Linked DNA regions of Homo sapiens: all the other regions are linked to region 3. Evidence: fine-mapped expression QTL. A gene starts in region 3. Each other region holds a variant in brackets. All regions are shown on one strand. Distances are from middle to middle.

Evidence for each region. PIP is the estimated chance that this variant, and not a neighbour inherited with it, causes the effect.
Region 1: its variant is the best candidate, but not a certain one, in a credible set for the expression of LINC01270 in caudate (GTEx, PIP 0.50).
Region 2: its variant is the best candidate, but not a certain one, in a credible set for the expression of LINC01270 in whole blood (INTERVAL, PIP 0.59).

What each region holds. Positions count from the first base shown.
Region 1 is chr20:49,574,457-49,577,217 of GRCh38, forward strand. No RefSeq gene overlaps it. Among named protein-coding and RNA genes, the nearest start is that of PTGIS, 7.7 kb to the left of the region's middle. The variant T/G (reference allele first, on the strand shown) is at 1,212.
Region 2 is chr20:50,350,241-50,353,001 of GRCh38, forward strand. It overlaps LOC105372657 (a long non-coding RNA gene), which reads left to right and starts at 458. Exons shown (of 3, transcript XR_936837.3): 1 at 458-770. RefSeq lists an enhancer at 215-264. The variant G/T (reference allele first, on the strand shown) is at 1,323.
Region 3 is chr20:50,291,153-50,293,913 of GRCh38, forward strand. LINC01270 (long intergenic non-protein coding RNA 1270) reads left to right here and starts at 1,568. Exons shown (of 5, transcript NR_034124.1): 1 at 1,568-1,678. RefSeq lists an enhancer at 1,121-1,857.

The DNA of each region.
Region 1 (2,761 bases), 720 kb before region 3:
ACGTGTTGTTACAAGTCATGGAGATTTTGAGATCTTCTTAAGCAACAAGAATTGACTAATGTATACTTTATCTCTGAACTTTTTAGAATCCTTTTGGTTGAATGTTCTTTGTACCAGTTAAATTAGAATAGGCTGCTTTCTACTCTTGGAGCCTTGGTACATCTGTACAAGAGGATGATGACGACAAGGCCCCCCTCCCATGGTGGTTGGACGAATTCAAGAAGATCTTGTGTCTAGTGCATGCAGTAGGCACTTAATAAAAGAGATGATGCTAGGCCGGCTGCAGTGGCTCACGCCTGTAATCCCAACACTTTGGGAGGCTGAGGCAGGAGGATCATGAGGTCAGGAGTTCGAGACCAGCCTGGTTAACATGGTGAAACCCCGTCTCTACTAAAAAATACAAAAATTAGCTGGGTGTAGTAGGGGACACCTGTAATCCCAGCTACTCAGGAGGCTGAGGCCGGAAAATCATGTGAAACCAGAAGGGCGGGGGTTGATCGCGCCACTGCACTTCAGCCTGGGCAAAAGAGTGAAACTCTGTCTCAAAAAAAAAAAAAAAAGAAAAGAAAGAGAGATGAAGCAAGGCTGGGCTCAGTGGCTCACGCCTGTAATCCCAGCACTTTGGGAGGCTGAGATGGGTGGATCACTTGAGGTCAGGAGTTCAAGACCAGCCTGGCCAACGTGGTGAAACCCCGTCTCTACTAAAAATACAAAAATTAGCCAGGAATGCTGGCGTGCGCCTGTAATTCCAGCTACTCAGGAGGCTGAGGTGGGAGGATTGCTTGAACCCGGGAGGTAGAGGTTGCAGTGAGCCGAGATTGTGCCACTGCACTCCAGCCTGGGCGACGGAGTGAGACCCTGTCTTAGCAACAACAACAACACAGCAGCAGCAGCAACAGCAACAACAACAAAAGAGATGAAGCATAATTCTTTCAGCACATATTACCAAGTATTTATTTGCCAACACTGTGCAGGCCTCTTTATCAAGAATTTTACTGAAGAAATGAAAGACAGAAAACCTCTTCACTTGGTCTTTTTTATACATGAAGAGAAAGCAGGTCTGAATCAGAGGCAGAGGGTTGGAAGAAATGACCTGTTTTCTGCCATCTGGGCCTTGCTGCTGACTGTCTCTAAGAATTTGCACAGGCCTGGGCCTTTGGAGATTTGAAGGTCTCTAAAGTGCAAGGATGTCAGCTGCAGGGGAGCCATCC[T/G]CCAGCATCCTTCCCCAGGAGAGCCAGGATTATGTAGGGAATGTGCTTGGCTAAGAGCCCAGAGGTGGGGCAGCTACCCAGATGCAAACATGGCTGGGCCAGGCGGCCTTTCGTTCAGCGTTCCCAGGCTAATTCCACCTAGACCTTGTCTTAGCCTGTGAGAGGATGTTCTGGAGTGGTCTTGCCCCTCTTCCCAGGCTATCTGCCAGAGGTGGTGGGTGCTACAGGAGAGGGACTCCAGCAAGCTTCTCATCCTTTGGTTTTCCCAGGACGGGGGACAGGTGGCCTCACGGCTCCCAACCAGCTGCCTTGGCACTTTGTAGTGGAAAAAATGATGAAGTCAGACCTCAGTCTCCTCAACTCCCTGCTGTCCTGCCTGAGAGCCAGCCTAGCATGGAAGGCAAGGAGAAAAGAGACCCATGTTGATCTGTCACCCAGACAGACCCTGAGTGATGATGCTCCTGCCACCCTGAAGCACCCCAAGAACCTCAGAACTTCTGGCTTCTCATCTTGAAAATGGGACAGCAGTCATAGCTGCTTTGCTTATTATGTCAAGGAGTTACTAAAGAGGATCCAGTTAGATAGTGGGGGTAGAAAAATGGCTGCCTAAGGCCACATTTACCCTCTCCTTCTAGAAATTATACCAGAGCATCAAGAATAATGGAAAAACAAATATACAAAACCAAACCACAAACTCCATTTTTAGCAAAGCCAGGAGAGACATATAATTCATCGGCTTCAGAGTACGTGTGAAGCAGCTAAGACAGGGCAGAAGCCACATGGGAGTGGTGAGTGGGCTCAGTGATAGCAAATCTCAGAAAGCATCAGCAAAACTACACTTCCTAGGGATGAGGGCTTGCCATGAGATGAAAGTTATGTTCCTTCTTTATAAAAATGAATGTAGAAGCTTGGGTGAATACGATTAGCAGCAGAAGCTCTCCTGGATCTCGTTTGGTTCAGAGAAACAGAGGAGGTATAGTGAAGAATTACAGAGAGAAGACATATTTGCAGGAAGCAGTCTGTCTCTATGGCAGCAGAGGAGAGCCACAGTTACAGAGCCCATGAAGCTACCCTAATTCTTCCTTACACCCATAGGAGCAATCAGCAAAATACCTGACCCAGGAAAACCAAGCCCTTCCAATGACAAGCTTTTGAAAAAGTGTAAAAGCCTTGATACAAAGATATTATGATAAATTATGAAGAGCAGAAAAATCTACCAATAGATGAAAGTGTTAACACAAAATGGATGAAAATTATATCCAAATCATATTGGCATAAATTCAAAAAAGAATTGAATGGAGGCTGGGTGTGGTGGCTCACGCCTGTAATCCCAGCACTTTGGGAGGCCGAGGCAGGTGGATCACCTGAGGTCAGGAGTTCAAGGCCAGCCTGGTCAACATGATACTCTCGAGGCTGAGGCAGGAGATCGCTTGAATGTGGGAGGCAGAGGTTGCAGTGAGCTGAGATCATGACATTGCACTCCAGCCTGGGCAACTAGTGAAACTCCGTCTCAAATTTAAAGAAAGAAAGAAAGAAACATCTTAGGAGAA
Region 2 (2,761 bases), 59 kb after region 3:
AAAAATAAAAATAAATAAATGTATCACCAGCTCCATCCATTCATCAGACACATGTTTCCATAGTAGATACCTTGTGCCTGGAAGGTTCTTCTTACGAGGGACATGGGAGTGAACAAACAGGTAAGGTCCCCTCCCCCCTGGAACTTGTAGTCCAGTGAACACAATCAATCCATTTAGGACTTGAACATTTGAAATTGAGACTTCCCTGTACCTATAATTATCAGAACTGTATGAGATCCTGAGGTGGAAAGATGGTGACTTCTGTGGGCTTTTTTGCTCAAACACAATTCTTTAAGAAAGAGACCTGCATCTCGGGCTGCCCACCGCAGTGTGAGGATGTGAGAAAGACCCAGGGACCTCACAGACCATGTGATGTCACAGAAGGCACAGGACTGCCAGGTGCAGTGGGTCACACTGTAATCCCAGCACTTTGGGAGGCAAACATGGGGGTGTCGCTTGAGGTCAGGAGTTCAAGACCAGCCTGAGCAACACAGCAAGACTCTGTCTCTGCAAAAAACCAAAAACCAAAACCACAGGGCGGGGAGGTCAGACCAGCTGCCTGGAATCCCAGCCCAGACCCTCACCAGCATGTGACCCAGGACGGGCCACGTGCTGTCTCCTCAGGAAGCCTCAATTTTCTCATCTGGAGACAGGGACAATGAATCCCTTCCAGGATCACTGTGAAAAGACAGGTTGAGCATCTCTAATTCGCAAATCTGAAATCCGAAATGCTCCCAAATCTGAAACTTTCTGAGTGCGGACCTGATGCCGTAAGTGAAAGCCCGCGGTTTTCTGTTGTCGCTGTTGTTTCACGGCTGAGCCCCCTATCTGCTGATATCGCTGTTCTGCTTGGTCGCCCTGAACTCCTTATTTTCCCACTGTATTAATGCTATGTCATACTTTTTACCATGGAGTACTTATGTGTGAGTAAGTGTGAGACAATGATTGCTTATTGATAGCATATAAATTCAGAGTCAGGAATAAGGGTGATGCCAAACAACCACAGATTGTCCACGTGGGTAACTGAGATAGGTGTGGGACGCCTTTCTTTCTGTTGGTGCGATGCACACAAAATTTGTTTCATGCACAAAATTATTAAAAATTATGTACAATTGCATTCAGGCTGTGTGTATAAGGTTTGTATGAAACATAAGTAAAGGTCATGTTCAGATTTGGGTCCCATCCCTAAGATATCTCATTGTGTATATGCAAATATTCCAAAATTTGGAAAATATAAAAATCCAAAAGACTTCTGGTCCTAAGCATTTTGGATAAGGGATCCCTTAGACGGTACCCTGTGTCAATGTGGGATATACTATGTA[G/T]GAAAATGTATTCGTGGTTCAACCCCCAGTCGGCCTGAGGGAAAGTCGATTCCAGAAAGGCCAAGTGATGAAAGTTCTTCATCTTTGTGGACCTCATCTGGGCTCAAACACATATTACAGACCTCAGTGTCAAAGGAGCCCTGAAGTCCCTTCAACAAGGGTTGGCTGGGTGAGGACTGTGGCGGCCTGGAGGGTAGCTGCGACTCAGCCTCCACGGGGAACGCATCCCAGTCATGCCAAAAAGCCATCTTCCTCAAGAGAAGCCAGAGATCCAGATTTTGATAGAAACTCTCCCAATTTTTAGGCCAGGCGCAGTGGCTCACACCTGCCAGCACTTTCGGAGGCTAAGGCGGGCAGATCACCTGCGGTCAGGAGTTCAAGACCAGCCTAGCCAACACGGTGAAACCCTGTCTCTACTAAAAATACAAAAAAAAAAAAAAAAATTAGCCAGGTGTGGTGGCCTGTGATCCCAGCTATTCGGGAGGCTGAGGCAGGGGAATCCCTTGAATCCAGGAGGCAGAGGTTGCAGTGAGCTGAGATCATGCCACTGCACTCCTGCCTGGACAACAGAGAGAGACTGAGTCTCAAAAAAATAAAAATAAAAAAATAAGAAACTGTCCCAGTTTTTAAACGTTTGCCACTAATGACGGCAAAGCATTGGCCTGCCACCTTGCACCTTCTGGGATGGCAAATGATCAAAAACACAGACACTAGCAAATGTTGGTGGGGGTGTGAGCAGCTAGAACTCTCATATCTTGCTGGCGGGATTGTAAAGAGGTACAGCCGATTTGGAAAACAGTCCAGCAGTTCCCCAAAAGTGTAGATTGAGTTACCACATGACCCAGACATTCCACTTCTAGGTATATACCCAAGAGATACAGAAGTATATGTCTGCGCAAAAACTTACACACAAATGTTCACAGCAGCACAATTCATTACAGCTGCACAGTGAAAACAGCTCCAATGGCCATCACTGGATGAATGGGTGAACCCCATGTGGTGGGTCCATACAATGGGATATTAGTTGGCAATAAAAATAATGAACGACAAACTCATGCTACAGTGTGAATGAACCTCGAAAACGTGGTGCTGAGTGAAAGAAGCCAGACACAAAAGGCCACATAGGGCACGATTCCATTCCTAGGAAATGCCCAGAAGTGGCAGATCTGTAGAAACAGCAAGTAGATTGGTGGTTTGGGGAGGCTGGGATGAGGGCATATGGGGAGTAGGCATGGGATACGGGGCGTTTTGGGGAGGTGGTGAAAATGTTCTAAAATTGATTGTGGTGATGGTTGCACAACTCTGTGAATGTACTTAAAACCATTGAATTGTACATTTTTACAGCGCGAATTTTATGGTAGGTGAATTATATTTTGATAGAGCTGTTAAAATACAAAAGTGCTGGCCTAACAGAGCCCCTTGGTGGGTTAGAGTCAACC
Region 3 (2,761 bases):
GGGCTGGGGTGCCAAGAACCAAAGAGCCATGATAAGGCCTGTCTGGGGCTCAGCCAAACTGGGGAGTAGTACACGAGAAGAGGAATGGGGAGCCCTAGAGGGTTTTAAGTAGGGGAGGAACGTGGAGTCCATAGCAAGGCAGAGTGGCTGGTGGGGAGGTGGGGAGGATGCCATGGCAACCATTCACGCCAAGCCTCAGCCCCGACCCTCAAGGAGGCAGGCAAGGCTGAGCTTCCCTTTCCAGATTGTTTGTGGGTGCAAAAGGGCAGCAAAGAATGTGGGTGCCTTGTCCTTCTGCCCATGGTCTAGTGTCCTTCCCCTCACCCCAGTCCCAGTGGAGCCATCATAGGTGAAATATAAGAACAAGTCACCTGCGTTCAGTGGCTGCAGAATACCTGGCCTCGCACAGAAGGCTGCGGGGATTTCTGCTCATTCATTCTTCCCACCTGCCGCATGAGGGAGGTGCTATGTCCATTTTACAGAGGACACTGAGTCCCAGAGAGGCTAAGCGGCATGCCCGAGGTTACACAGCCAAGAAGGGGCACAGCAAGATTCAACCCAAAAGTCTGCACTCCAGCCACTGCCCTATCATGACACTCACGAGCTCCCACCAAGTCTGGCTCCAGTGTTTCCAGTACCATAATCATCCCCATTTACCAGATGGGTAAACTGAGGCTCTGAGAGGTGGAGTCACTTGCCTGAGGCCATACAGCAGGAAGGGTAAAAGTAAAGATTTGAATCCCTGGGTCTAGTCGACTCTGGAGCCTGCTGTTCTCCCACCATACACCTCAGCTGCTCGCCCTCCTGGGCATCTGTTTCCTCATCTGATGAACAGGGGTGACGGCGATGCCTCCCTGGCAAGGTCCGCAGAGGATCCCGGGTGGTGTATGTCAATCACCCAGCTCAGTGCCTGGCACTCAGTGGATGCTTTAAACGTGATGCCTGTGTTTATTCGTATAAAGGTGGCTGAATATTAAATGGGTGGATTTATGGAAGGCACTTATGGTAATGCCCTGTACATAATAGATGCTCAAGAAACACTAGAAGCAGTTACTATGATTATAGGATCGACCACAGGGGACAGCCCAGTAACCCCTCAAAGTTGCTTCCTTCCCAAGTTGCCTTCCATTTATTTCTCCCTTCATCCAACACACTGGCCTTAGGGTCCAGGTTAGGATTTGGGGGCTTGGGGGGCTTAGGTTACAATTTGAGGTGATTTGTCCCCCCCTGCCCATCAGTCAGAGTGATGCTGAGAGCACTGGATGATAAGACCAGAATTCTAGGTCCGCGCCCCGGACCTGCTGTGTGATCTCTGGCAACTGCCTTGCCCTCTCTGGGCCTTGGTTTCTCCTTTCATCTGCAGAGCCTGGGCCAGGCTGCCCTGGGAGGTGCCAGCCCCGAATGGGGCCGGGGGCAGTTCCTGTGTCCCCTTGGCCACCAGCCTCCATCTCCTGCCTCTTGAGCTGCAGGCCCGCCCGGCTCAGCTGTGACGACGAACCAGCCAATCTGTTTACTGAACTGGCTGACCCCTTCCGGGAACTCGGCCCAAGCTTCCCAGAACTCGGGTATTAATGACCCGGAGCCACATGACGGAGCATGACACAGCACTTTTGGGCACAAGGCAGGGCCCAGAGGGGTGCGTGGGGGCCGCAGCCCAGCCCCCAAGCCCCGCCAGCGGGTGAGTCACCTGGGCCCCCTGCAGCTTCCTGATCCCGGCCACTCAGCTGTCCTCCCCACCCCCAGGATATCCCCAGTTGTCAGGGCTGCCCTGGGACCCCTCGACCTTTGCACTAGGGACTTAGCAGCCGTCTTGGGTGATCAGGGCTGCCTTCTGGGATTACAGATGGGGACAGTGAGGCCTGCAGGACTGGAGTGAATGAACAGTGAGCTCTGAGTAAACGTCCACTGTGCGGGAGGCACTGTGCAAATACGTCACGTTAGTCTCGCAGCGATGCAACACAGTGGCGTAGTTTAATCCCCATATGATAGATGGGGAAACTGAGGCTCAGAGCGGGAATGAATTCTCCCAAGGGCATGCAACAAGAGCACTCTGTTTGACTGGAAATAATTTCCTTTCGTCTCCTCAGCAGCCGACAAGGGAGGTGCCATGTGGACTGTTTCACAGCTGGAGAAACTGAGGCACAGAGGGGCTGAGTCACCTGCCTAACGCACTGAGCAGTCTGGCTCCAGGACCTGTGCTCTGAACCAGCACCTGGCACATAGCTGGCACCGACATGGTCTCCGTGCACTGCCATGGATGAGAGCAATGCTGGCTGCGGTGTCGGGCGGAGCTGGGTTCCAATGCTGACTTCACCTTTCTCAGGCTGCACAGCCTGGAGCACGTGGCTGCACCCTACCGTGCGTCAGTTTCCTCACCTGTGAAGGGTGATCGTGGTGGTCCTGATCTTGCAGAACTGCAGTGAGGGCTGTGAGTGTGGGGTGTCTCAACTGCACCTGGACACGCAGAAGGCACTCTGTGAACACTGACTTTCATTGGCCCAGGCCTCTGAATCCATGACAGTTCAATCTCTGAACCCCACAGCTTCCTCCTTCACCCTTTGCCGCCCCAGGGCAAGGTGAGGGCGGTGGTTTTTATGGGCCTGGGAACCAGACAGGCTCGGGCTCAGAGGGGGCGCCTGCTGCTGGCGGGAGTGGGGCCTCCTGGTTCCCACTCCCTGATTTTGGGCTGGGGGCCGGTGGTGGGCAGGGGTGGGGCAGCACTTTGATGTTCTTCCCTTCATTCCACCACCACTGCTTGAGC